Linked DNA regions of Homo sapiens: regions 2, 3, 4, 5, 6 and 7 are each linked to region 1. Evidence: fine-mapped expression QTL. A gene starts in region 1. Each other region holds a variant in brackets. All regions are shown on one strand. Distances are from middle to middle. Region 1 holds the start of KDM5A (lysine demethylase 5A). Region 2 overlaps SLC6A13 (solute carrier family 6 member 13). Region 3 holds the start of SLC6A13 (solute carrier family 6 member 13). Region 4 overlaps KDM5A (lysine demethylase 5A). Region 5 overlaps KDM5A (lysine demethylase 5A). Region 6 overlaps KDM5A (lysine demethylase 5A). Region 7 has its middle 4.1 kb from the start of SLC6A13.

Region 1 (4,069 bases):
GAATAGAATTTCTAATTAATAAATTCAAGAGTAGATAAAAATATGACTTAGGAAAACCTTCAATGCTTAAGATTTGTTAATATTAGGTAATTATGATAGAAAAAAGGGTTAAATGGAAGTTTTTGGAGGATGGCAATGCGTATCATCATAGCAATTATTTGTTAATCCTCTGCTTGAAATGAGTAGTCTATAACCTTAAACAAAGTCATTCAACATAGTGAGAGCATTACGTCTGTTTCAGAATCAGAAAAACTGATCTAGGTTCAAAATACACTTTGCCACTTGCCCAAGATCACACATTTGGTGTTTTAACTTATCCAGATTAGCCTCATCTGTAAAAGGCGGACTTTATTTACCTGTCAGGGCTTCAAAGATTAAAGCAAACAATCTATAGGTGTTAAATTAGTTCCTCCTCGCTGTCATTTAAGTTTTTAATACGCTGCGGTGCCTATCTCTGTGGTAGTCAGTGGTGACGGCAGATGCTTTTTAAAAAGCAACACTGGTTAACAGTGCTTAATATTTTATCATTACTAATACTAGACAAAACATAAAGCAAAATGCCTTTAACAAGCAACGACTAAAGCAATGGTTCGAAAACCTCAACTTACATGAGAATCATCTGAGACTAGTTGCTAGAAAAGCAGATTCCAGAACTTCCACAACAAGACTAGAGATCTGCATTTAAACAAGCATCCAGTTGACCCTGGTGCAAGTGGTCCAGCAACATCATTTAAAAAGCACTGGTCTAATGAGTAAAGAAAAACACCTTTGACCTTGAGTAATCACTCAACCTCTTGGGGCATTAATCCCCTCCACACAAGGGATAGTATCTGTTTTCCTTACCTCAAAGGTGAGATTATAATTAACCTTATAGGCAAACCTAGTTATCTGCAATAACTGTGATTCTAAAATCGTTGATCTTGAGTTCCCTACGTCAAGAGATTTCAACATTTCCTTCCACCTCCACTATAAACCAATTTTTCCTAAACCTCTAAATTTTAGAATTATTGCTGCTCCTTCTCTTTCCCCGCTAAGACTTTTTCACTGCGGCAATAATTAGTCTGGAGTTCTTGTCTAGTAATACCATCCGGTGAGACTAGAGCTCAGATAACCTTTTCAGAAACCCTAGCCCTGAGATGAGGCCTGCAAATATTTGATCCAACCAGGTCTTGAATAAAGAGATAGCCGACTATCAAACCATAATGAGGATACGTGAGGGAAGAATACGTCACGTCATAATACTGTACTTTAAACACCATATCGGCTAACGAAAGGCTTTAGGCCCACGGCTGAGAGAAAAGTATCAGTTCCCAAGTTCTAGGCGGAAGAGGCCCAAGAGACACCACTTTCTCGCTTTCAGACGTGTCTACATAAGACCACAAAAGAAACCGAGGCAAAAACATCCAGAAACAGGCTCCAGTTGTCTCAAAAGAGAGTACATATGAAACGAGACAAGGATCAGAAAAGTAAAGCTAAACCCAGTGTACGGACTCCCCCATTCTTCCTTCTCCCCCTCTCTCTTCACAGACTGAGGTACCTTGGGCGGCCGAATTTTGCAGATGCCGGTTTTCTCCGCCAAAGGCCGGATGCGGCCGATAAAGCTGAGCGGATCTGTGAACTCCTCCCAACTCGGCTCAAAGACGGGGCACTCTGGCGGTGGCACGAACTCCGCCGCGTAGCCCCCCGGCCCCACGCCCGCCATTGCAACGGCCGGGGGGGGGGGGGGGTCCCCGTGGGGAACCGGTGGAGAAAAGCTGGCTGAAGCCCACTAAGCCCGTTCAAGTCCCCTGACAGAGGCCGAAGCGCATCTTCGCGGACAAGAACCGTTCAACACAGAAACCCCAGAATCGCTTCCTCCTCCCGTTTGTTATTGTTTCTTGCAAGGCTTTTCCACTGAGGTTCAGGACTTTTCCGGAAGTTACCGTGCTGTCAAATCCCTCCGCCCCCTGCAGGAAACGGAATCCTTCCGCAGCTGCACGACGCCTGTGTGTCTGGCCTTTCCTTCTTCTTCTCTTCCCCGGCAGCACAGTGTGGCTGTTTGTCTCCTTGCCCGCCAAAGTTCTGCCCAGTCCAACGACTCCACGCAGCTCGCCCTTGGTAAGGGGTCGGGGAGGGGCACAAGCTCTTCTTTACTAGAGGTACGGATTGAGGGAAGCCGACGGGGCGAGGCGGGGCGAGGCGCAACGAGGCGGGGCGAGGCGCGACGCGACGTGACGCTTTCTTCCGGCGCGGAGGAATGTGTAATGCCCCAGAGGGCAGAGGTTGTGCTTCCGGTGAGGAGGGTCCCTTTCCCTTTTGTGTATCAGTGCACTCGAAAACACGCCGGGCTTAATCTTAAGCACCGCGCCTCACCGCCCGTGCTTCGTAATTTGTTTTAACCTACCCTGCTGCGTTTATAGCAAGTAGCCTTTCCAGCATTTCTCTTTTTTTAGCCCTTTGAATGCAGATATTTTACAGTAATCTCACTCTGCCACTTTATACCCGCCTCTTCTCCATCAAAACAAGTGCAGGTCTAACCCATCCCCTAAATCCTGCCAGCTGGCTTTAGCCACCATCCATGAATTGCTTTTCCTTTTACACAGGACGCAGCAGCTCTCCTGAATTACCAGCCAGTATCGTCTAGCTACCTGCAGGACATCTCACTTTGATAACTCAAAGTACTTTAATTGTTCACTGTTTCTTCAGTGTTCCTGGTTTCCATTAATGACTTCATCTATTCAGTTGCCTGAGCAAAAAAAAAAAAAAAAAAAAAAAATCAAGAAATAATCCTAATTCTTTCTGCTCTCACTTCCCATGTATAATCGTGTGTCTCTCCATCCCCGTTACCAGTATCCTAATTTAAATACTCTTACTGACAACAGCTGATTTCTCCTCTCAAATCCCTCTCCATCCACACGTTGGATTGCTTTGTCTAAAATCCAGAATTCATCTTGTCACTTTTCATCTCCAAACTCAACAACTCCAAACATCTTTTTTAATTGCTGATTTGCTGCTTTGCTCTCCAGCTTCATCTCTCCTGCTTCTCCATATGATCTACAGAAGTTTTTGTGGTGACTTTAGTACACCATGATTTTTCTCACCTCTGAGTAACAAATCAGGGGACTTTGAATAACGCAGATTGCCCTCCATAATGTGAGTAGGCCTTATCCAATCAACTGAAGGCCTGAATAGAACAAAAGACTGACCTTCCATGAGCAAGAAGGAATTTTGCCAGTAGATGGCTCTCAGACTTGAACTGTAGCATCACCTTTTCCCTGGCCTCCAGCCTGCCAACCCACCCTGCAGATTTTGGACTTGGAAGCTCTATAATCAAGTGAGTCAAGTCCTTAAAATAAATATCTTTATAAACACACACACACACACACACACACATCTTATTGGTTCTGTTTCTCTGGAGAACCGTGAATACATCTAGGGTTGGAGGGTTCAAGATGGCCTCACTTACGTGTCTGGCAGTTGGTGCTGGCTATTGGCTGGGAAGTCTTAGTTCTCCACATGGCTTCTCATCTTCTGGTAGATGGAGCTTTTCCACTGCATGGTGGTCTTAGCATTCTAAGAAGATGAGAGTGGAAGCAAAGACCTAAAGCCTAGACTCCAAAATGTACAAGATCACTCCATCATATTCTGTTGGTCAAAGCAAGTCATAAGACCATCCCAGATTCAAGAAGTGGGAAAATTCCAATTTTTTATGAGAAGAGTGACAATGTCACATTACAAAGGGGTGTAGACACAGGACGCTGTGATTCATAATAATTCCATACAATTATTATAATGATTTATGTCCAGGTGCAGTGGCTCACGCCTGTAATCCCAGCACTTTTTGAGGCCAAGGCGGGCAGATCACCTGAGGTCAGGAGTTTGAGACCAGCCTGGCCAACATGGTGAAATCCTGTCTCTATTAAAAATGTACAACAATTAGCCCAGGCGTGGTGGCAGGCGCCTGTAATCCCAGCTATCCAGGAGGCTGAGGCAGGAGAATTGCTTGAACCCAGGAGGTGGAAGTTGTAGTAAGCCGAGATCGTGCCACTGTACTCCAGCCTAGGCAAGAAGAGTGAGACTCTGTCTCCAA
Region 2 (4,069 bases), 140 kb before region 1:
TCAACCCATATCTTCACTGTATACAAAAATTAAGCCAAAATGAAACATAGAGCTAAATGTCAAACCTAAAACTATACATCTTCTAGAAGAAAATATGAGGCCTTGGGTTAGGCAAAGATCTCTTTATATGATATCAAAAGTATGGTTTATAAAATAAATAATTTATAAACCAGACATCATAAAAATTTAAAACGCCTTCTCTTCTAAAGACACTGTTAGAAACAGGAAAAACAGTCCAGGTGCAGTGGCTCACGCCTGTAATCCCAGCACTTTGGGAGGCCAAGGCTGGAGGATCGCTTGAGCCCAGGAGTTTGAGATCAGCCTAGGCAACATAGTGAGACCTCGTCTCTACCAAAAAAAAAAAAAGTTTTTAATTTTCCGGGCATGGTGGCACATGCCTATAGTCGCAGCTACTTTTGGGAGGCTGTGGTGGGAAGATCATTTGAGCTCAGAAGGTCAAGGATGCAGTGAGCCGTGACTGCACCATTGCACTGCACCATTGCACTTCGGCCTGGGTGACAGAGTGAGATCCCATCTCAAAAAAAAGAAAAGGAAAATTACAAAACACAGAATGAAAAAAATAGTATTTGTAAAATGCATTTCTGATAAAGGACTTGTGTGTTAGAATATATGAAGATACCTCGATAACAAAGGATAAACTACTGATACATGAAAACTATAAATGAAACCCTAAATAATTATGCTGTATCATAATTATCAACATACCATATGATTCCATTTATATAATATTCTAAGAAACGCAAACTAAGGTATGGTGGTATCACAATTTTCATAATTATCAACACACTGTATGATTCCATCTATATAATATTCTAAGAAAAACAAACTAGTTTAGTTTGCATTTAGCATAATTATTGATTGCACTGGGATGTGATGGCAGGAGTGAAGTTGGGAGGAAGGAATTAGAAAGAGACAGGAGTAACTGTTTTGGAAGTGATGGACATGTTTACTATCTCAATTGTGGCAGTGGTTTCATGCGTATATACATATGTCAAAATTTATCAAATTGTACACTTTAACTATGTGTGGTTTATTGTAAGTTAATGAGGAACCCAGTTCTCCAGTTCTTCACCTCCCACTTCTCAAGGTTGTATTCTACACATCCATAATTCAGGCACTAAGGGGGACTTGATCATGAGGACAAAGAAGGAAAGGTAGCAAACAATTCAGCCAAAGAAGTCCATAAATCAACCCAAGGTTTGCTGAGCAGGAAGGAAAACAGGAAAGATAGAACCCAGCAGCTGACAGGAACAGTCACTGTGGAGAGCCCAGTCCAGAAAGAAACAGCTATGGGCCCAGCCCAAGCCCCTTCCCATATTCATGCTTCCTGCTCTTTCTCTATAAACCAAGCCAATGTTTAACTCTGGGCCCCGTGGTCAGCTGCTCCCACCTCCTTCCTCTGCCTCGTTGAGCTCCTTGGCAGCCTGCCAAGAGGGACAAAGTCCACACCTGCAAGGAGGGGCTACAGGCCCTAGAAGTGTGAGAGGGGTCGGGGTGGGAGGGAGCCAAGGGGGCCAGGTACGGACTGAGGAGTGCTGAAGGGCATTCTGCCTCTTCCCCTCCGCAGGTACCACCATCAAAAGATGAAGTTAGTCCTGGGGATGGGGGGTGGAGTTCACAGTAACCTGCACCCCCATATCATCCATACTAGTCTCCTCAAAAATTCTAAAATGTGCTGGCATTTTCTCCGTGAGATAGGAGAGACCATATCCCCGTCCCAGAAAGCAATCACTCTCTTGGCCCCCCTTCTCAAAAGGAGCACGCTCTGTGGTGTCACTTGTAACGTTCCAGCCAATTTCTTACGGCATAAACTGACGATCTTCCACTTGAGCAACAGAAGAGCGAGGAGCTTCCATGAGGAGTTATGTGCTGTCCTCGGCATGAGCCTGACCAACAGTGGGCCCTGAGTCATTAACTACACTTGGTAACACACTGTCACTCACTGCTAAATTAACCATTACTTTTATATGAACACACGAACAGTGCTTCTTATTTCTCTTTATTCTCTGCTATCTATAAACAGCACAGGGCTAATGGTTTTCCTTGCTG[C/T]CAAGGGAATCCTCTTTGTGTGGGCATCCCAGTGCACCTTCTTTACAGGCTGGAGCTGAGGGATCTTTCCCCTCCAGGCCCTTCTGAGAGGTCCTGCTGTGTGCCTCCTGTCGTGGCCTCACATGGGGACTCCAGTCCCAAGTTAATTCTGGGTGTTGAGCAACTTGGTCTGCCAGCAGCCAGGGTCCAGGCAGTTGGAGAGGTCTCAGCTGAAGGCCCGTGTTCTGAAGCACCCAGGACCTAGGTATGGGAAGACTGAGGCTCTGAAGAGGAGTTGGAGGGGACAGGGAGGAAGTCCTCGCAAAAGATGGTCTCCAGCTGGTGTCCTGAGACTAGTGGAAAACTTAAAAGGTTCTTGGCACGGGTAACTTCTGCCCCGAGTGAAATTTCAGCAACCTGGACTTAGAAATTAAGTGAAAATGTTGGCAGACGGTTTTTTCATCTGGGCTGAGATAGGCAGGAAGGTGATTTAAATTCCCCGCTGGCTATGGACAGTCCTATGACCAGAACCCTCTCCCGCTACCTTCTTCCCACATCACGCCTCCTGCGTTATCCAGCATCTCCTCGTCCCATGACTGGAACTTTAACTGGGCAGGCCCTAGTAGAAAATCGTATTTGCTTTCCCTCCTGGCAGCTGAGGGTGGAGGGCTGGAGGAATAGTTCAAATGTCAAGCTTCTTCAGCCGCCTCGCCAGCTCAGGGCCCCACCCCCGAGGAGTCTGGCCACTGGCACACTGTCACTGCTACGCAGGACTCACATGGCCCCCTTCCGCCCAGAAGGGAAATACACAAGGAAGGGGTGGATTTTACCTACTCCCACATTTTGCCCCAATAACCCACATTTACTATTTCCAATTCCTTTCTCCCATCTCCCCCATTATCTTAAATCCATTTCAATCAGTCATTGTCCCCAGCCCTCCACTGTAACCGCTCTTATCATCAATGACTTCCCAGCTGCTAAAACCAACAATCAATTTCCTTTCCTCATCTTCTTAACCTATCTGCAGCCTTTGCTGCAGTTAATTTCTCCCTCCTCCCTGATAGAATTTCTTCACTCGACTTTCCAAAACACTTCATTCTCTTGGTTTTCATCCTGCTTTACCAGTTTCTCATTTTCTGTCTCCTCTGCTGGTTTCCCATCTTCTCCCAGACCCACTAAAGGTCCTTACTTTCTTTTCTTATACCATCAAAATGCTAATGATCCCCAAATACACACCTCCAGCCAGATCTCTCTCACAAACCCCAAACTCACATTCTATTGCCCAGTTGCCATTTCCACATGGACATCTGATAGATACCTCAACTCAACTTTCCCAAAATTCACCTCCTTACTTTCCCTTCAAAACCTGCTCCTCTGGGGCTAGGCACAGTGGCTTATGCCTGTAATCCCAGCACTTTGGGAGGCCGAGGCAGGCAGATCACTTGAGACCAGGAGTTTGAGACCAGCCTGGCCAACATGGCGAAACCCCCTCTCTATTAAAAACAACAACAACAACAAAACAAAACACAAAACCTTGCTCCCTTCATGGCCTTCCACGTCTCAGTGAATGGCAGCTCCTTCCTTCCAGTCACTCAGGTGAAAACTCTCGGATTGCTTAGATGGGTGCTAGCAGTGGAGGGGATGAGAAGTGGTCGGGTCCTGCACATCTCATCGCGGGGGCTCTAGTCCCAGGCATTCGGGTGCTGAGCTACTCGCTCTGCCAGCAACCAGGGTCCAGGGAGCTGGAGAGGTCCTGAAGCTCCCAGGACCTGGGTGTTTGGGTAGAGTCAAGAGCTATGAGAGGTGGAGGAAATTAAGGATGACTCCAAGATTTTTGCCTTATAACCAGTCAGCTTCTGCCTTCACTCCCCTATACTCAGTTCTCAACATACCAGCTAGAGAGATTATTTTAAAATGTAAGATGACTGTCCGGGCGCAGTGGCTCATGCCTGTAATCCCAGCACTTTGGGAGGCCAAGGTGGGCAGATCACCTGAAGTCAGGAGTTCGAGACCAGCCTGG
Region 3 (4,069 bases), 130 kb before region 1:
GAGGTCATGCTCCCCCTACAACATGCACACATTTGTGCTGCGAAATTTTTAAAAAGAGAGCCTATACTAGAAGGGGCTGGGTAATGGATGGCTTAGGGAGCCTCACCGTGCCAGCAAAGTAGGAAAAAGACACAAGACCAAGGCTGGGGAACCTTAAGACCACAGAACAGTTTGGTTATCAACGTCATCATCAGCAGAGCTACTATTTATTACTTAAGACCACAGAACAGTTTGGTTATCAACGTCATCATCAGCAGAGCTACTATTTATTACTTAAGACCACAGAACAGTTTGGTTATCAACGTCATCATCAGCAGAGCTACTATTTATTACTTAAGACCACAGAACAGTTTGGTTATCAACATCATCATCAGCAGAGCTACTATTTATTACTTAAGACCACAGAACAGTTTGGTTATCAACGTCATCATCAGCAGAGCTACTACTTATTACTTAAGACCACAGAACAGTTTGGTTATCAACGTCATCATCAACAGAGCTACTACTTATTACTTAAGACCACAGAACAGTTTGGTTATCAACGTCATCATCAGCAGAGCTACTATTTATTACTTAAGACCACAGAACAGTTTGGTTATCAACGTCATCATCAGCAGAGCTACTATTTATTAAGTGCTTTACACACATTGTCTCTAATCCTTACAATGACCTTGAAAGGCAGGCATTATTATCTCAATTTGCAGGAGCGGCAATTGATGCTCTGAGAGCTTAAGTAACTTGTCCAAGATCACACAGAGTGTTAAGTAGCAGAGCCAGAATCCAAACTCTCATCCACCTGGTTCCAGCTTGTGCTCATATTTCTACGATGCCACGTTATAATAGAAAGAGCCCTGGGATAGTCACGTAACCTTTCTAGGTCTTAGTCTCTTACAGAGTGTCCTTAATGACCTCTAAGCGTCCTCCTACCTCCAGAATTCTATACATCTATGGGACTCCCCAGAGGGGCCGTAAGTGCAGGAGATGGAAGTATCCTCCTTCCAGGAGTGGGTGGGGTGGCACAAGGGCTCTCATCTCACCTCCCCCATTTTTGTAGCAGAGATAGGGAAACCTCCAGACGTTGCCTAAGCCAATGATCTCCCCAGCCACTGACAGCACAAACTCCATCTTGTTGTTCCAGTGCCCCCGCTCCAGGGTGCCATCTTCCTCCTTCTTTTCCATGACTGGATACACTGGTTTTGTCTCTCCATTACTGGTTGTGCCTGAGACCCTGCTATCCATCCCACCTGGAAAACAAGTGGGATGCTCTGTTACTGTTGGGAACCCCAGAAGGAAACCCCTCCTCCTGCTTTTACCAACAAATCCATAAGGGAATGAATGCACTGGAAGAGGTGAATTTCTATTCCCTTCCCTGTAGACCATGTCCTCCTTAGCAGTTCTCATTGGTAGAAGCTGGGTGACAGCTACTGAAAACATATATTCCTTTCCTGTTTCAGGAAGAAAGTGTTGGTACTGACAGACAGCCTTTGCTTCCACTATAAGGCCCTCTTGGGTTGAGGATTGCAGACATGGAGGAGTTCATGGGCCGCTGTGCTGTCTAAATTCTCCCTGCCACCCTACAGTCAGCCTCGTCGGGATTAGCATGTGCTTCAGTCTGTTTACTCTGTATGCTGGGACACGTTGAAAGGATGGGATTTTACATGTCCTCAAAGCCACCAATTTCCCTTGCAGGAATTTATGCTAAGGAAATAATTGTGATTGTGAGTGAAAGGTGTAGCATTAGGATATTTATTGTTCATAACAGCGAAAAATCGGAAAGTACATAAATTGTCAAAAATGGTAGATATGTTGATAAATTATGGCACATTCATATAATGGACTACTATATATAATCATTAAAA[CCT/C]GTGTTATAGAAACAAGTATATCGGCACAAAAGGGTGCTCACAATATATAGTAAAAAACAGTACATACAATATGATCATGCTTGACAAATATTTTATAAAGTATTTATAGGCATTGAAGGAGTAGGATAGCCATGAAAATGTTTTTCTTTCAGCAGTTGGGTTATAGGAACATTTCCTTATCTATATTTTCTACAATTACATCAAAAATGTGTTTTACTTTTGTAATATAAAAATAAAAGCCGGTTTTAAAAAAAAATCCTGTCAAAGGATTGGGAGAGGTTGAGTGGGACCAGGAATTGTGAGTAAGATGAGGTGGTCTAAGTACTCCTTCTATGTCTCTCTGAAATCAGCGTAAGGCAGAGATTTACTATGCGCTCTTTTTCTTTTTTGGTGATGACAAATTAGGAGTCTGTGACAGTAGAGAAGATGATATAAATAAAAAGCCACAGTTTTAACCATTCACTGTCAGAAATGGCCCATTCCAGACCACTGTTGGGATTGAGGATGACTGGACGTGGCCCACATTTAGTTAGCAACTACTATAGACTAGGCACTTCACATACATTCTTTTCATTTAATTCTCACAACAACCCTGAGATGTAAGCATTATTACCTCCACTTTATAAATAAGGAAGTTGCAGCTCAGAGAGGTTAAATAATGTGACTGCTGCTGCCATATAGCTACTAACTTGCACAGCCAGGACTTAAACCCACTCTGCCCCTGCTCTTTCAGTTCCATCCCTTTGATTACATTGGCTGCCTAGGTTCACTGGTGTGTCTACTAAAAGCATCTTCTAATGACTCTGCCTTGATTTTGCAGAGTGGCCTCTTTTCTGGAGAAGGAGGCAGATGGACTTTTTTCTAAGCCTCAAGCAAAGTTCATGTTAACAGAACTTTCTCAGCAGTAACCTCTTCTGGCCACAGACTCTACTTTGGCTCTGACCCAGAAAATTAGAAAGTCAGTGAACAGGCCGGGTGCAATGGCTCACGCCTGTAATCCCAGCACTTGGGAGGCCGAGGCGGGTGGATCTCCTGAGGTCAGGAGTTTGAGACCAGCCTGGCCAACATGGTGACACCCCGTCTCTACGAAAAGTACAAAAATTAGCTGGGCATGGTGGCAGGCACCTGTAATCCCAGCTACTCAGGAGGCTGAGGCAGGAGAATCGCTTGAAACCAGGAGGCAGAGGTTGCAGTGAGCCGAGATCGCGCCACTGCACTCCAGTCTGGGCAACAAAGCGAGACTCTGTCTCAAAAAAAAGAAAAAAAAAAAAAGTCAGGGAACAGCAGGCATCTATGTTTATCTGATAAATTAGGGAATGAGCTCCTTTCTACAAAGGAGAAACTCAAGTAACTGGTCCCAAGAGGGCTCCTCAGTCCTTTTGGGAAGGTTGTCTAAGGTACTGACTGTGCTGGCCTCCCCTCCCTTTACCAGCTGATGGATCTCTCCCAGTGATGGAAAGCCTTCCCTTCTCCACCCTCCCAGACCCTAGGAGAAACAGTAGCCTTCTCCTGGCTCCCTTAGCCTCATTAGAGCTGCTTCTCAGAGGTAGCATGTTGTGTCTGAAAGGTCATGAGCTGTAGAGTCAGATGAGGCCAGGTTCAAACATTAGTTTTTTCTCATACCAATGTCTGACTTCAGAGAAGTTAATGAATGACTCTGAGCCTTAGTTTGTTCATCTGTAAAAGTGGGGATGATAGATAGGATATACTTAGCTATAAGAATTAAATGAGGAAATATACATATGTATACACACTTAATAGAATAACAGGTACTCAAATTTTTGTTTTCTTTCAGTCCTGTCAGAGTTGATCATTGTTCTCTTTTCTCAGAGAAGAAAGACTTTGTTTTCTTGGAGTTAAATCCAGTTGTCTTTCCTCTCAATCTAGGGCTCTCTCTTTCCAAATCACAGTGTCACTTAAGTCAACAGCCACCCAAGTTTCAGAAAGTCAAGAAAATAGCACATAATCTTTGCATTTGCACACATACATGTCAGAAGCGTACTTTCTAGGCGAGGGTAAGAAAAAAGTCCTTTGGTTGTAAGTCCCATGGATCCCACCAACCTGCAGTCTGAGACGCAGAAATAGAAAAAAAAGAGAAGAAAACATTTCGAACCTTAGTGAAGCTGCTGCCAGAGGTCCAGTCAGGGGAGAAGAATTATCTAAGGGGGAAGGAGAAGGTGCTGGCTATTTAAAGTGTGGTTCCAGAA
Region 4 (4,069 bases), 110 kb before region 1:
TTGCATCCAGAACCCAAAAATTAAGAAATTCAAAAAGACATTTTGTGGGCACCTGCTAGCACAGAAGCGCAGAAGCAAAGCCCAGGCAGAACCATGCTAACCTTACAGCTCAGCCTGCACAGAAGCGCAGAAGCAAAGCCCAGGCAGAACCATGCTAACCTTACAGCTCAGCCTGCACAGAAGCGCAGAAGCAAAGCCCAGGCAGAACCATGCTAACCTTACAGCTCAGCCTGCACAGAAGCACAGAAGCAAAGCCCAGGCAGAACCATGCTAACCTTACAGCTTAGCCTCTGTCCTTTAAAAAAAGAGAGAGACAGACAGACACATGGGGTCTCGCTGTTGACCAGGCGGGACTCAAACTCACAGGTTGAAGCAATCTTCCCACTTCAGCCTCCTGACCACAGGTGCACTCTACTGCACCTGGCTGCCATGTTTTTTATTATTAAAGTACATTATGGGTAATCACAGGTTTAATGTTTGCCGTTTCCATTATTCAAGGTATGACATGCAATAATTTATAATTTTACTGAGGCACAAATTTGAATCATGCAGGCAAAGCTGGTGTGCAGCAGCTTAGTGAGGAAGTCATGCATCTACACATCAACATGGCTTTGCTGCAGTACCTATCAGGAAGCAAAATAAACATCTGTGGAAGAAAAATCTCCTGTCTTCTCCCCCAGCTAGAAAGCTAACTACTGGTGCTGTATTTGTACTTTTAAACTTGGGGATCTGCATAGTTCTAATGACTTAGCTTTTAAGAATACCACAGGCCTACCATATTTCCATTTTTCTTTCTATAACCTTTGCCAGAGTTAAAATACTAATGATGAAGAATTGCAACTTCAGTTGCAGTTTAGAGGAGATAAGGGTAGAAAGACATTTTAAATCATGTCTTAATACAAAATATTACAATACAGAAGGGAGCAAGTAAGTAATTTTCTCTAAGTGAAAATAATGCTTTGTATTAGAACACCAACATTTCTTTAAATAGATGAATCTTGTTTCATTAATTCCAAAACCGCAGATTTGTGTATTTTTTGTTTTGCCATTAATTTCTCCCTTCTGTTCTTCTCAGCCTTGGTCTAAACCTGTGGTCAAGTCATACCAAATCCTCCATGACTGTCAAGTAAATACAGAAAATCCCACAGTATCAACGAAAAGACATATTTAAGTTTCAAAACGTCAGAAGGTGACAGGAAGCTATTCATACTTTCTCAGCATCCTCATGACTCTCCACTGATAGTGGAATAGTTAATGGATGATTAGGAAGGAAAAATAAAAATTTTAAATGTATTCCAGGCATCTGTCACTTAAAATTACATTCAATTTTTAACCCACAAATATCTGAAGACTGTTACAAAGAAGATCAACAGGCAAAAAATATTGTGCTTTCTTGTATAACATCAACCAGAGGAAATTCTTAATTGATAATCGTTAGCTTGGCAAAACGAAAACTTATGAAATCAGTTAATTAGTTACCTTGCAATATCCATTGAAATCTTCGATCATACACAAACTTACTTCAGATGAGACCTCAAGACATATGCACAGCAACACTAACAAACCTCTGAACAAGTCAAAACACTCAAAATGTTATACAGTATTAAGAATGAATAAAAAGTAGGTAGTATGAACTTCAGAGAAAACATTTACAGAAATTGGATTTTATAAGAAAACATCTTTTTTTTTGTAAGATTCCTTTTGAGTTAAATCTCATACCCACTCAAACTGTAACTGGACAGTACATTTCACTTCTAGTTACTAGAAGACAGTTCTTTAAAAGAGACTGGGGCAAAAAGGGAAGAGGAAACTATAAGCTGTTGCTAGGTCCACCCCAATCCCCCCTTTAAAAGGAAAACTGATGAATTTAAGTCAAACCACAGATTTTTTTAAACCAAAATAAAGACACCAGACAGTGATGACAAAACACTATTTTTAGTCATTTTTTTTTTTGTCCTTTAAAAAAAAATTAGTCCCCTTCTAATAAGAGTTTACATACAGCTTACCTAATACCTTAAGAAGAACAGAGAACACAACAGGAGGGAAGAGGACACAGCACCATAGTTTCAAACATTCACACACAAAAGAAAAAAGAGCCAGCACAGACTAGAGTGAGACCAAGTTTCCCAACAGACAGGGACAAGTCCCAACACACAAAGGACATATAATTATCTATATGAACAAAAGCAAAATGGAAGATCTGGTCAGGCTGGGATGGAGGAGGGAGTGCTAACTCCTTGTACTACAAAGAAGGAATGGGATTTTTTTTTTTAAAGCAAAAAAGAAAAAGCAAGCCCCCAAATGGATTTTTGATGTTGAAACTCTGTCATATGCTGCTGGTAACAGTAAATATATATATTTATATATTCATATATGTATATTAAAAAAGGAAAAATAATCTATGTATAGAACAGTCAGTAGTCAGAGACATTTAGAAAAAAGTAAAAACAAGTCCTTTTTTTTTTT[T/A]AAAAATGGATTTACTAAAACAACTTCATCACCCAGAGGTACTACAACCCCACATCCTCTGATGAAGCCATGGTGTTATTCAACAGCATCTGCTGTGGGCCGTAGTTAGAAATCACCAGTGTTGGAAACAGCAGACATTGGGGTCAGGGCTGCAAGGCAAAAAGCTGTTATTTGCTGGTCTTGCTCATGGCCATGCCTGAAGCCTGGTGTCTGGAATACTTGTGAATGAAGTTTTCCCCGAAAAGCATGCATCACTGTGGCTCAGTAAGATAGTACGACTGGTCATCATCGTCATCTTCTTCTCTTTTTTTTTTTGGCAGAAGCCTGGATCCATGTACCTGCTCTTCCCTAAAATGTAGACCCAAGACAGCAAGACTTTTCAAAGCCAAAAAACGGCTCCTTGCCTTGTAGTAGGTTCTTCTCCTCAGAATCCAATCTAGTCAGATTTCTGATCTAGATGATATCCTCATCTTACAAAGATAAGGTGACCTGCCCCAGCTTGTGAGAGGTTCTCCTATTTGGGATGTTCTTCTAGCACAAACAAGCACAAATCGCTGAGGTCAATAGACTGTGATACCATTCCTTGACGTCTAACAGAAATAACTTTGGCCCTGTTACTCCTAGTTGTATCTTTAGGGCATTAAGTACCAGGTAACAGTGGAAGGAAAGTGGTACTCCAATCCCTCTCCAACTATCCCAATGAAGGAGATCCAAGCAATTAGCACCTTCAGTTGGTGCTGCTCCTAAGTTGTAAGCCTCTAACTACTATCAGCTGGACAAAAGCCACATCCTATATGCCCTGTTAGCACACCAATGTATTAATACTAACCAGCCACCCTAGAGCTCAATTAAGCATCTGGCCTTAATGCAGTAAACCACACTCAAAGGAGACATGAAATATTGGCTGTTGTACCAAAGAAGACACCCTCTGCATAGATATGTTGATAGAGAATGTAACCCACAGAGTCCATGCAAAGAGGAAGCCAGCACTAAGGGGACTTTCTCTGAAGGCCATTCATCTTTGGAAGCAACATTCCAAGTGGATATAAACCACTCTACTTGATGACTAAGGTCTCAATGTGGTCCATGTCCCCCCATGTCCCAAACTAACCAAGCATCTGCTAACTGGTCTCTTTAAGATCCTCCATTGGTAGTTTGTAGCTCATTATGAAGGAAGGAGGTGGTGCTGGACCTGGGCTAACTGGCCCCTGCTTCTTTGCACAGTTTATACAGATGTAATCTTCATTTTCAGCCATTTCTGGAGATACACCCACACAAACTTGATGAAACCACTCATCACAGCCACCATCACATTGTACCCAGTCTACCTGTAGGAAACAAGATTGGGGAATGTTTAGGTTACATAAACATTAAGCCTAGAATAAAAGCAAACCAAAGAGCTTTCTTGGCTTAAACAATAGCAAACAACTGGGATGTCTAGATAGGCAATGACTTCTTATGGGGTTATTTTTTAAAGAAAGAAGCTGAGAAGTTAATACCCCAAAATTATATTTCACCATAGTGTGTCCACAAAATTAGGCCTCTTAGGTACTCCATTACCTCATGAATACCTGGGGCTCCTTGTGAGGCAGAAACATGTTTG
Region 5 (4,069 bases), 54 kb before region 1:
TGAACTCTGTAAGGCGGATCAGTGAAAACACCTTCAAACGGGAAAGACACTATATGAAAAGTAAGCACTGTCCCAAAGGATGCTGACACATGACCTTGATTCAGAGGTCCATGTGAATAATGGACATTTCAATTATCCCCACAATGATCAAAATAAGTCAGTGCTCTCTAGGATACTTCTAAATAGCTTCACTGAGTTCAATTTTACTACCCAAAGAAATAGGCCAAGGCTAGAAATTATTGAAACCTTAAATATACTTCTGTCTATAAACCTTAAAGATCAAAAACCTAGCATCATTAATCCACTAGACTTTAGTAGAGTTCATGCATGCTGTATTTTAGACTGTACATACCAGTGCAAGTAGTTGATGGAATAACTCCAGTGATCCTCAATGTGCCAGCAAAAAGAAGAGAAGCACATTCCCACATAGAGCCACGGCACTTTCATACCAGAGATGTCCACATTAATATGTGCAAGAACAGACTGTTCCAGGACAGGCATGTTATTCAAATTCCAACCAGAAAGTGCATATTCCTATAAGAGAAGAAAAAACTGTAAATGAAAGATCAGAAATGAAAAGTGCTCAATAGAAATGCCAAGGGAGTCTTCCCAGAAAATTTTTTTATAATATTTATAATAGTCTAGTGCATACAATCTGTGCTCTTTGCTATCCACTACATGTAACTCATATAACTAAACATTTAATCCTACCTTCTGTCTATGTTCTATTTAGATTTCCCTTTATTTCAGATACCTCTGGTTTACTCCAAAGCACATGAGCAATTCTTGTTATTCTCCAGCCAATCAGGAAAACAGTATGAGACCCATCTTAATACAACATCACTATTTCTATTTTATAGCCAGTAGCATAATTTCCTAAAATGTTTACTACTATATTGATAGAATGGTGCTAGATACTGTAAAGACAAAATACAATATACATAATCTTGAACTTGTGACAACAATGAAGACTGACATGATGCAGAAAGTCACCGCCATCACTCCTAACCATTATACAAACACACCTAGAAATACCGGATAAATTATAACAATAAGACTGACAGGATGCAGAAAGTCACCACCATCACTCCTAACCATTATACAAACACACCTAGAAATACCGGATAAATTATAACAATAAGACTGACAGGATGCAGAAAGTCACCACCATCACTCCTAACCATTATACAAACACACCTAGAAATACTGGATAAATTATAACAATAACCAAAAAAACTTCATAGGTGAACCCAAAAGAAAAGGGAATTCCCAGTTTCTGGAAACAGAGTGGAAGCAAGCCATAATGAAAAAGGAAGCTGTTGCAAGAGTTTTCACAGGGGCTTCTACTTGGATATTGGCACCGGAGAAGGACTTTCAAACATCCATCTCTGCAGCCATATGAGGCTATGACTTAAAGTGCTTATCATCCTTATGGAGAACAGTTCTCAAAATGGGATCCAGAGGATCCACTAAGTCAAACTATTTTCACAATAATTCTAAGACATTATTTGTCTTTTTCACTTACATTTTTGCAGGAGTACAGTGTGAGTTTTCCAGGGGAAAGATGGTATGTGCTATCATAACAGATTGAATGCAGAAGCAGATATGAGAATCTGCTATTAAAAAGTTGATAACTGAATGTGGATGTCAGGAACTGGCAGGGGTGGGGGTAGGGTCATTATTGTGCTTACTGTTTAGAAGTTTCTATAATACAAGTTAAAAATAAAAAACCCTCAAGGTAAGAAGTTAAAGAGCCAATGACAAAGCTAAAGAGAATTTGTGAACTAGAAGACATGTTTGAGGAGATTATCTATAAGGCAGCACAGAAATATATAAACTATCAAACTGTAATTAAGAGTCACAGAGAGGCGGGCTGGGCACGGTGGCTCACATCTGTAATCCCAGCACTTTGGGAGGGTGAGGTGGGTAGATGACCTGAGGTCAGGAGTTTGAGACCAGCCTGGCCAACATAGTGAAACCCTGTCTCTACTAAAAATACAAAAAATTAGCTGGGCATGGTGGCGGGCACCTGTAATCCCAGCTACTGGGGAGGCTGAGGCAGGAGAATCACTTGAACCCGGGAGGCAGAGATTGCAGTGAGCCGAGATCGCGGCATTGCACTCCAGTCTGGGCAACAAGAGCGATACTTCATCTCAAAAAAAAAAAAAAAAAAAAAAAAATAGAGAGAAGCTGGGCATGGTGGCTCATGCCTGTAATCTCAGCACTTTGGGAGGTCATGGCAGGCAGATGACTTCAGCCCAGGAATTTGAGACCAGCCTGGTCAACATGGCGGGACCCCATCTCTACAAAAAATACAAAAATTAGTCAGGC[G/A]TGGTGGCGTGCGCCTGTAGTTCCAGCTACTAGGGATGCTGAGGTGGGAGGATCCCGTGAGCCCGGGAGATTGAAGCTGTGAGCCGAGATCATGCCACTGCACTCCAGCCTGAAAGACAGAGTGAGACCCTGTCTCACTAAAAAAAAAAAAAAAAAAAGTCACAGAGGATGGAATAACAAAGTCCAACACAGGTTTAACTAAGAATTCCAATAAGAAATGACAGATCTATTCCTAAAGTTCAACAGGCTAACAAAAAAGGAAATAAAAGAATCTCAACAGGTTATTACTCAATATGTTTTGTGATTGGTTGGTCAGCTGGCTGGCTGAAAAATAGTGAATTTCATTGAAGAGACAAGGTCTACAAACAAAAAGAACACTGGGAGGCCGAAGCTGGTGGATTACTTGAGGTCAGGAGTTCGAAACCAGACTGGCCAACACCGTGAAATCCCATCACTAGTAAAAATACAAAAATCAGCCAAGCGTGGTGGTGCATGCCTGTGGCCCCAGATACTCAGGAGGCTGAGGCAGTGCTTGAACCCAGGAGGTGGAGGTTGCAGTGAGTCAAGATTGCATCACTGCACTCCAGCCTGGGCAACAGAGCGAGACTCCATCTCAAAAAAAAAAAAAAAGTTACAATACAAGGTAACATATATAAAATTCCAAATACATATAGAAGAGAAAATACAGTTCTTCAGAGGACAATAAAACAGTGATCATCATGGGTTTGGATTGTGATATGGTTTGGATTTGTGTCTCTACCCAAATCTCATGTTGAATTGGAATCCCCAATGTTGGAGGAGGGACCTGGTGGAAGGTGACCGGATCATGTGGGCAGATTTCCCCCTTGCTGTTCTCACAATAGTGAGTTCTCACGAGATCTGGTTGTTTAAAAGTGTGGGGCAACTCCCGCTTCTCTCTCTTCCTCCTGCTCTGGCCATGTAAGACGTGCCTGCTTAGCCTTCACCTTCTGCCATAATTGAAAGTTTCCCGAAGCCTCCTCAGCCATGCTACCTGTTCAGCCTGTGGAACCTGTACAGCCTCTCTTCTTTATAAATTACCCAGCCTCGAGTATTTATTTATAGCAGTACAAGAATGGACTAATAAAGATTGTTAGGAAAACTTCACAGCAAGGAAGAAATTGTGTTGAGCTTTGAAGGATAGATAAGATTTGAATAAACATTCTAGGAGGAAGAGCTACAAGAATGTAAAAGGTAAATTACAGAGAGAATATACTAGTCTAGCTGGTGAAAAGGCAGAATGGAAGAGTCATACGCAAAAACACAGGAAATAACATTAGAAAAAAAGATGAGATCTTTAATCTTAAGTTTTGGACTGAGAATCTGAGATTTATCCTATATTCAAAAGGGAAACATAAGTTTTGAAAAACGAAACAATATGATAAACATAGAATCAAATATTTCTAAACTTTTTTTTTTTTTTTTGAGACAGAGTCTCACTGTTGCCAAGGCTGGAATGTAGTGGCACAATCTCAGCTCACTGCAACCTCCACCTCCTGGGTTCAAGCGATTCTCCTGCCTCAGCCTCCCGAGTAGCTGGGATTACAGGCACCTGCCACCATGCCCGGCTAATTTTTGTGTTCTCAGTAGAGATGGGGTTTCACCATGTTGGCCAGGCTGGTCTCAAACTGCTGACCTCAAGTGATCTGCCCGCCCTGACCTCCCAAAGTGCTGAGATTACAAGCATGAGCCACCGTGCCCAGCCTATTTCTAAACTTTT
Region 6 (4,069 bases), 85 kb before region 1:
ACAAACCTGACAAAAAGAAATGGGGAAAGGACTCCCTATTTAATAAATGGTGTTGGGAAAACTGGCTTAGCCATATGCAGAAAGCTGAAACTGGATCCCTTCCTTACACCTCACACAAAAATTAACTCAAGATGGATTAAAGACTTAAAGGTAAGACCTAAAACCACAAAAACCCTAGAAGAAAACCTAGGCAACACCATTCAGGACATGGGCATGGGCAAAGACTTCATGACTACAACAACAAAAGCAATGGCAAAAAAGGCAAAATAGACAAATGGGATCTAATTAAACTAAAGAGCTTCTGCACAGCAAAAGAAACTATCAGCAGAGTGAACAGGCAACCTACGGAATGGGAGAAAATTTTTGCCATCTATCCATCTGACAAAGGGCTAATATCCAGAATCTACAAAGAACTTAAACAAATTTACAAGAAAAAAACCACCCCATCAAAAAGTAGGCGAAGAATATGAACAGACACTTCTCAAAAGAAGACATTTATGCAGCCAACAAACATATGAAAAAATGCTCATCATCACTGTCGCTAGAGAATTGCAAATCAAAACCACAATGAGATACCATCTCACACCAGCTAAAATGGCAATCATTAAAAAGTCAGGAAACAACAGATGCTACAGAGGATGTGGAGAAACACGAATGCTTTTACACTGTTGGTGGGAGTGTCAATTAGTTCAACCATTGTGGAAGACTCTGGCAATTCCTCAAGAATCTAGAACTAGAATTACCATTTGACCCAGCAATCCCATTACTGGGTATATACCCAAAGGATTATAAATCATTCTACTATAGACACATGCACACATATGTTTACTGCAGTGCTGTTCACAACAGCAAAGACTTGGAACCAGCCCAAATGCCCACCAATGATAGAATAGATGAAGAAAATGCAGCACATATATACCATGGAATACTACGTAGCCATAAAAAAAGATGAGTTCGTGTCCTTTGCAGAGACATGGATGAAGCTGGAAACCATCATTCTCAGCAAACTAACACAAGAACAGGAAACCAAACACTGCATGTTCTCACTCATAAGTGGGAGTTGAACAACGAGAACATATGGACACAGGGAGGGGAACATCACACAGCAGGGCCTGTCCAGGGGTGCAGGCCTAGGGGAGGCATAGCATTAGGAGAAATACCTAATGTGGTTGATGGGTGCAGCAAACCACCATGGCACGTGTATACCTATGTAGCAAACCTGTACGTTCTGCACATGTACCCCAGAACTTAAAGTATAATACAAAAAAAATTATGGTTAAGTAATCTACCTTCTATAGTCTACAACCTATAATAACTCCTATACCAACAAGTTAAGGAGGGGAAGATAAATTTAGATGTGACAGCCTAAGGACACAAACCATTTAATCCTCTCTACAGGTTTTCAAACCTAGAATCTTACCAATTGCTCTTAATACAAGTATATGTCTGACTGACAATATATAGATTACAGTAAGTCTTCATGTAATGTCATTGGTAGGTTCTTAGAAACTGCCTTTAAGCAAAAGGAAGTATAGTAGCAGGTCTTTGAATAAAGTTGTTTTCATTTCATTATAACAGTGATGAGGGGGAAAAATAAGTTCAGCTTGCAGATCAGCTTGGTACTGCCCATTAATCTCATTGTTACACTTAAAGTCCTTGCAATGTTAAGTGAGCTCTGATTAGGTCTATGATTCTCCTTGAAATTAGTTTCCACAAGCTCACCTACATAGACACAATCCCAAAAGATGCAGGACAGACTTTGCTTCATTAAATATGTACCTCGTAAGTAATGATTTTCTGGATGGTAACTAAGATAAAATGACTGATTTTATTTTACTAAATAATTACCTACCCCTCCTCCTAAACCAAGAGGGGGCTCTTCCTCAAGCAAGAATACTAAGTTCAAAGTATTTTAAGTTATGAATTTATGGTCACAACAGAGGACATCACACAAAGGAAAAAACCACCAGGTCAAATGCAAATAAACCGGCAAATAAAATTTTCATTATACAATTATCGCTTGCTCTGTGGGAAAATGCTCAAGAGTATAGG[CT/C]TTTTTTTTTTTTTTTTTTTCATTCAAAGATATCAACATCAAAGTAAATTGGCAGGGGTATATAGCTCAGTGGTAGAGCATCTGACTGCAAAGTAAATTTGAACTTGAATTACCATAAGTCTTGCCACCATTCTTCTCAGCTGTCAAATACATTGCTAACACTAGAAAATCCATAATCTTATTTTTCTACCCTGCCAATACCCACTACCAAAGAGACAGTAAGCTAAGATTCTCATATAAATTCCTCCACAAAAAGACTACTCCATCCAACCATATGAAACTGCAGTTGTGATCCCTAGTCCTGAAAATCATCAATACTTGTGATGTTTTCATAGGTTACCAGTCTGCTTTCAAGCAAAGCCCATCATGTTAAGCAATTCTAGAAGAGTGGCTGATAGCTAATGTGCTAGAAAGCAACCACCAAAAATATCAAAGGCCTCTAACTAGGGTAAACGGGTGATTCCAGTATTCAAGGAAAAAGCTAATTATACTTGGCATGGGTTGCATTTCTTTTCAGCTGCTCTTAGTCACCCTATATACAACTTCGTAAACAAAGATAGTCATTAACTTCTGGATAACAACGTGCTTAAGAATGTACCGCTGTGTGTGGTATAAGCTAGTGTACCTTTCAGCAGACTGCCAATGAATTCTTCATAATGGGATTTAGCAGTACACTAAGATGATATTCAAGAACTGTACGCAACTGTAATGCCTCTTTTCTTAATAATGGCCCTCAATCAGCCCTTGAAAATCAGTGCAACAAAACTTGGCCATCTGTTCACAAAACTTTCAAAACTGAAAAATAATAATCTACCATATAATAAGATATTTTAATATAAAAAAAGATTATTTGAACAGTCTAATTCAAGTTTCAACTGTTTTCAAGTCTTTAAGTCACATAACTGAAAATTCCCATTTCTATCTTGAGAAAAAATATTTCCCAGCAGAGGAATCTACGAGCGTCTATGATGGATGGTTTTAATTTTATATCCTAGGAGTTTTAATGCTGATGAGATTAATGAGCAGTACCATGCTGATCTGCAAGCTGAAAAGACAAATAAAAGATAGTGAAGGGGTAGGAACAGAATCTCCCCTTGTTCTCTGGAAGCAGCCTTTTGTATCAGAGTAGGAATTCCCAGGTTACAAGAATAGATTCTAAACAAAGCAACTAAGAATCATATAAAACAAGTCAATGGATTGACTGTAATCTGGCAGGGTCTCTGCCTAATCACATTGTTATTACTAGGTTAAAAAGCAAAGGGCTTGCACCTGACAAAAAGGGCTAACGAAAAGCCAACTGGATCCAACACAAAACAAACTTGTCAAAACCTTCTCTTCACCACCAGTAACGTGTCATTACCAAAATAATCACATTGATGGTAAATAATTTGTTGTATCTGCAACTGGAACTCAGCAAATTCTAACCTGGGCCCAAGTATTATATTACCCATCTCCGAATGTGACATTCTATCTAGCACCATCCAGACGAGAAAGCAGAGCAAAAGACTCTAGCAATGGAAGTGTTTTTTTTTTTTTTTTTTTTTTGAGACAAGGTCTTGTGCTGCCCAGGCTGGAGGGCAGTGGTGCAATCATGGCTCACTGCAGCCTCGACCTCCTAGGCTCAAAGCAATCCTCCCACTTCAGCCTCCCAAGTAGCTGGGACTACAGGTGTGTGCTACCACACCCAACTAATTTTTGTATTTTTTGTAGAGATGGGGGTCTCAATATGTTGCACAGGCTGGTCTCAAACTCCTGGGCTCAAGTGATCCTTCCACCTCAGTCTCCCCTAAATTGTTAGGTTTACAGGCATGAGCCACCACACCAAGCCTAGAATGGAATTCTTAAAACTTAACTGTATACAGACTTTCACAACTCAAAGAAAAAAATCTGAAAAACTGAAATTGGCCAAGAAAGCTTTACATATTGTTTTTCTAGTTCCTCTAAGCCATAAGGGATTATAAGATGAGTAAAACAAATACAGATTTTTTAATTCTATTTTTTAAAAATTGTTTCAGG
Region 7 (4,069 bases), 120 kb before region 1:
TGCATCTACCTCACGTTGCCATCATCCTTTGGTCTGCTGGGTGCAAAGTCAAGAAACCTGAAAACAGGTAACAACAGAATCCGTATTCAACAGTTCTTACTCAAGAGGCTGCATAAGTTTTAAGACTCACTAGAGATTGTCAGTGAGGATAATTGAAGGCTGTGCTTCCAACAACAGGATTGTATAAAACAAAGTGAACCACGCAAAAAGCAGGCCTAGGAGTCCTGGTTTGTACCAAGTTGATCCCAGGTATGTTTAAATGACAGTACGCCATGATACGCTCTCCCAAAAATTGTTTGACTCTACTAGGAGTGGAATAAGAACAAATAAAATTTTTTTCTAGTTTGACATTTCACAGAAACAAATTTTAAAAGCAGCACGATTTGTTTCAAGAAAGAACATTTCTGAGCAACATCAAGGTGGCAAAGGAAGTGGTGGGTTCTCCTCTGGAGACCTTTAAATTAAGAGATATAGTTCTGTTTAACCACAGGAGTCAGAAACCTGTTGACTTTTTGGATCCCTTTTCAAACATCACACTGAAAGAAAAGAAAAGAGCAAGTAGAACAGACTAAACAACAAATTATGGCTTTTGCTATAACTGAAATAATTTGAACAACAAAATGAATAATGATAGTATTGGATTGTAGCCCAAAGAACAAAGTTCACTAATAAGTTCATGCTGATACAAATAACCAACAAGTTAATAAGTGGGATAAAAGGACTAGTCTTCCTTACAGTTGAATTCCAATTAATACATATAGAAGGATGCCGAGCATGGTGGCATGCACCTGTAATCTCAGTTACTCAGGGAGGCTGAGGTGGGAGGATTACTTAAGCTCAGGAGTTTGAGGCAACACAGCAAGACCCCATCTCAAAGAAAAAGAAGTCTTAATAAATGTAGAAGGAAAGAGAAAAACAGAAAATCACCATTAGACAAACACCACTATAATAATTGTTGCAGACAAGATCTACCAATGAATGCTAAAACTAGTGGGTGAAAGTTCCAGGAGGAACAGAATTTTTACAATTCCAAAGTGTCTCCCCCAAGATATTTATTAACTACAAAGGGAAAAATAGTGATTTTGAAGTAGAGAAGCCAGGCAGAAACCACCTTAACCAAATGACCAAGGTCAACATCACCAGTAATAAGATAGTAATAAGACATCAATATCTCTCTATATCATGAACCATGGATATGATGTACTAAGAGTGACACAACATTTCTGTGGTATTCTTGCCAAACATGCGGTTCAATCACAAGAAACATAAGACGAACCCAAAGTGAGGGGCATTTGACAAAATTACCGATCACTACTCTTCAAAAGTGTCATGAAAGACAAGACAGACAAGACAACAAAGACTGAGCAAGTGTTTTAGGCTGCAGGAGACTAAGGGAAAATCACAACTAAATGCAATGTGGGGTCCTGAATGGGATCCTAGATAGGATCCTGGAATAGAAAAGGACATGAATGTAAAAACTGGTGAAAGTTGCATAAGGTCTTTAGTTTAATAGTTCTCTACCAATGTTAATTTCCTCGTTCTAACAATTGTACTATGGTTGTGAAAGATGCTAACGTTAGGGGAAGCTGAGTGAAAGATGGAAACTCTCTGTACTATTTTTGCAATTTTTCTGTAAGTCTAAAATTAGCTTAAAATAAAGTTTTTTTGGTTTTTTTTTTTTTGTTGTTGTTGTTGAAGATTTTTGTTTACACTCTATTACAGCCCAAGTACTTGACCCTGCTGTGAAAAGCTCTGGGATGTTA[C/T]GTGCGGAAACCAGAGGTGTCACTGAAAACTGTGAAGCGTTTTCTGTTTGATCCCAGATGGGATAATTCACCTAAATTCTATCAACTCCAATTTGTTTTCTTGTTTCTTTGTTTGTTTGTTTGTTTGTTTTGAGATGAGGGTCTCATTCTATTGCCCAAGCTGGAGTGCAGTGGCACAATCATAGGTCACTGCAGCCTCAACCTCCCAGGTTCAAAGGATCCGCCCAACTCAGTCTCCCCAGTAGCTGGGACTACAGGTTTGCACCATCATGCCCAGCTAATTATTTTTTAATCTTTTATAGAGATAGGGTTTTGCTATATTGCCCAGGCTGGTCTTAAACTCCTAGCCTCAAGCAATCCTGCCTCAGACTCCCAAAGCACTGGGATTATAGGCGTAAGCCACCATGCCAGACCCAAGATCTGAAAGAAACAAGACTTATGACAAAGAATATTAATGACGTCAACCATTACCATTAGTAACGTTTGTCGTGCATTTCAAATGTGCCAGACGTGGTGCTAAGTGCTACACAGGCACCATCGCATTTATCCTCAGAACAAACCTACGACACAAGAATTACTGACATGACCATTTAAAGACAGGAAAACAAAGGCTTAGAGATAATTAAATTACTTGCTAGGCCACATAACTAGTAAATGGTAGACCCAGGTTTTGAACTCAGGTTTGTAGAATTCTAAAGTCCATTATTTACTTATAGCTACCATGCTATCTATACTTTAAGTCTAGAGGGGGAGGAAAAAAGACAAGAAAAACACTAAAAAGCACAGCTCTAGTACTGTTTATTTTGGCTATTGCTGGCCCGTGGGATTAAACATAACTTTCTTAGGAAAGAGGTGAATAACGAAAATGACAAGAAAAATGTTGCTTTCACTGAAAATCTCATCAGACCTGAATAATACTTTAAAAATCTAATCAGAAGGCTCTCTTCCTATCCCAATGTGTTCCACAATTCTCTCCTACTACTCTGCCCTATTAAGGAAAATCATACCTTTTGTCTTTAACTCTAGAAAAGTAATTGCAGTTATTTCCCAATTTTATCCTGTTTCTTCCAATCCCTGTTTCCCTGATTTCTTGTCTGACTCTCAGAGTACATACAGTTTGCAACACTTATGTAACTAGTCTCAGTGGGAAGCTCTTGGCTGATGAACAGTTAGTGAGCAGGGGTTCTGAGTGAATGGAGACACCCTGACACTATGGAGCTGCGGTGAGGGATTAGGGCAGAGTGACATTTAAAAAGAGCAACTTCAATCGATGGACAGTCTTTTATCCTAAACATTTTTAACCACCACTGCAGGACGTTATTTGTGATGAGAAAAATATATTGATGCACTGATCACACAGCTGACTGATGAGGAATGCAAAGTGTGGCCGGAATCTCATCTCTCATGTCTCAGCCCAGAGAGAGAGGGGACCCAGAAGGGAAACATGATTGTTTTCCCATGACTGGGAAACATGGCAGCTCTCATCTGTCCTGTTTCCCCAAACAAGAAAAAACAGACACAGCCTGCTCAAACTGTGCCGTCAATGCCCGTGAGCCAAAGACCGCGAGGAACACACAAGTTGGGTTCATTACTCGTGGCAACAAGGGAGAGTGCACACAATGTAAACTGTGAGGTGTCTCAGTCAGAGGGCGTCGCTGAGGACTTGTTATCGGATGAATTTCTGTTAGGTGATTTTCAGGAGGCTTCAGGAAGCAGGGCTTTGCTTTGGATTGGATGCTGTGAGGAAGGAGGAGTAATTTTATAATTAGGTTTCCTAATGGATTTTGTCTAGAAAGCAGGAGAACGAAGTGAAGTGAAAAGCTGTGATTGGCAAGGAAGGAGCAGTCACTTGTGTTAGCCGGCAAAAGATGTTCGATCGCTTGTGTGGTTTGGACAATGTTTACGTTGTTGTCTTTATTCAGACATCATCACAGGGTGATCTTATTTGTGTCTGGATCCACCATGATCACAGAGTGGCCTTGCCTGACATTGACATGTGAGAACAAACACCAGGGCAGCTCCTAGCAATACAAAGCCTAACTGATAGTGTCTGTCCAATTTCCAGCTGTCAGGGGCTTCTTTTCTCTTTCTCAGCCATAACAGCCACATAAACTCGGAGGAGTGAACTGACGTCACAGAAAGTGGTGACTGTAGCGGGAGGAAGGCCCCTCTACCTGTTCTCAAGGCCTTGGCCACGGGTTTTCACCCCCTCTTCCCTATATTCTCCTCCTTCACACTAAGCCCAATCCCAACTTTACCCGCTCTTGTTATATCTTATCCGTATTCCCTCCATTAAAAAAATATTT

What was found.
Region 2: its variant is fine-mapped to the expression of KDM5A in whole blood (INTERVAL, PIP 0.97).
Region 3: its variant is fine-mapped to the expression of KDM5A in whole blood (TOPMed, PIP above 0.99).
Region 4: its variant is fine-mapped to the expression of KDM5A in whole blood (TOPMed, PIP above 0.99).
Region 5: its variant is fine-mapped to the expression of KDM5A in whole blood (TOPMed, PIP above 0.99).
Region 6: its variant is fine-mapped to the expression of KDM5A in whole blood (INTERVAL, PIP 0.98).
Region 7: its variant is fine-mapped to the expression of KDM5A in whole blood (INTERVAL, PIP 0.98).

The regions. Positions count from the first base shown.
Region 1 is chr12:387,390-391,458 of GRCh38, forward strand. It overlaps KDM5A (lysine demethylase 5A), which reads right to left and starts at 1,931. Exons shown (of 28, transcript NM_001042603.3): 1 at 1,538-1,931. The coding sequence starts at 1,702. It overlaps LOC105369594 (a long non-coding RNA gene), which reads right to left. Exons shown (of 4, transcript XR_007063149.1): 4 at 2,644-3,552. It also overlaps a transcript of CCDC77 not described here. RefSeq lists an enhancer at 2,094-2,388.
Region 2 is chr12:251,438-255,506 of GRCh38, forward strand. All of the region lies in intron 2 of SLC6A13 (solute carrier family 6 member 13), which reads right to left. It overlaps LOC102723544 (a long non-coding RNA gene), which reads right to left. Exons shown (of 3, transcript NR_120482.1): 3 at 2,005-2,310. Among named protein-coding and RNA genes, the nearest start is that of SLC6A13, 9.4 kb to the right of the region's middle. The variant C/T (reference allele first, on the strand shown) is at 2,071.
Region 3 is chr12:258,814-262,882 of GRCh38, forward strand. It overlaps SLC6A13 (solute carrier family 6 member 13), which reads right to left and starts at 4,023. Exons shown (of 15, transcript NM_016615.5): 1 at 3,976-4,023; 2 at 1,038-1,244. The coding sequence starts at 1,239. The variant CCT/C (reference allele first, on the strand shown) is at 1,860.
Region 4 is chr12:281,869-285,937 of GRCh38, forward strand. It overlaps KDM5A (lysine demethylase 5A), which reads right to left. Exons shown (of 28, transcript NM_001042603.3): 28 at 1-3,794. The coding sequence ends at 3,588. Among named protein-coding and RNA genes, the nearest start is that of SLC6A13, 21 kb to the left of the region's middle. The variant T/A (reference allele first, on the strand shown) is at 2,467.
Region 5 is chr12:333,889-337,957 of GRCh38, forward strand. It overlaps KDM5A (lysine demethylase 5A), which reads right to left. Exons shown (of 28, transcript NM_001042603.3): 11 at 353-534. Among named protein-coding and RNA genes, the nearest start is that of KDM5A, 53 kb to the right of the region's middle. The variant G/A (reference allele first, on the strand shown) is at 2,332.
Region 6 is chr12:302,394-306,462 of GRCh38, forward strand. All of the region lies in intron 24 of KDM5A (lysine demethylase 5A), which reads right to left. Among named protein-coding and RNA genes, the nearest start is that of SLC6A13, 42 kb to the left of the region's middle. The variant CT/C (reference allele first, on the strand shown) is at 2,053.
Region 7 is chr12:264,857-268,925 of GRCh38, forward strand. No RefSeq gene overlaps it. Among named protein-coding and RNA genes, the nearest start is that of SLC6A13, 4.1 kb to the left of the region's middle. The variant C/T (reference allele first, on the strand shown) is at 1,764.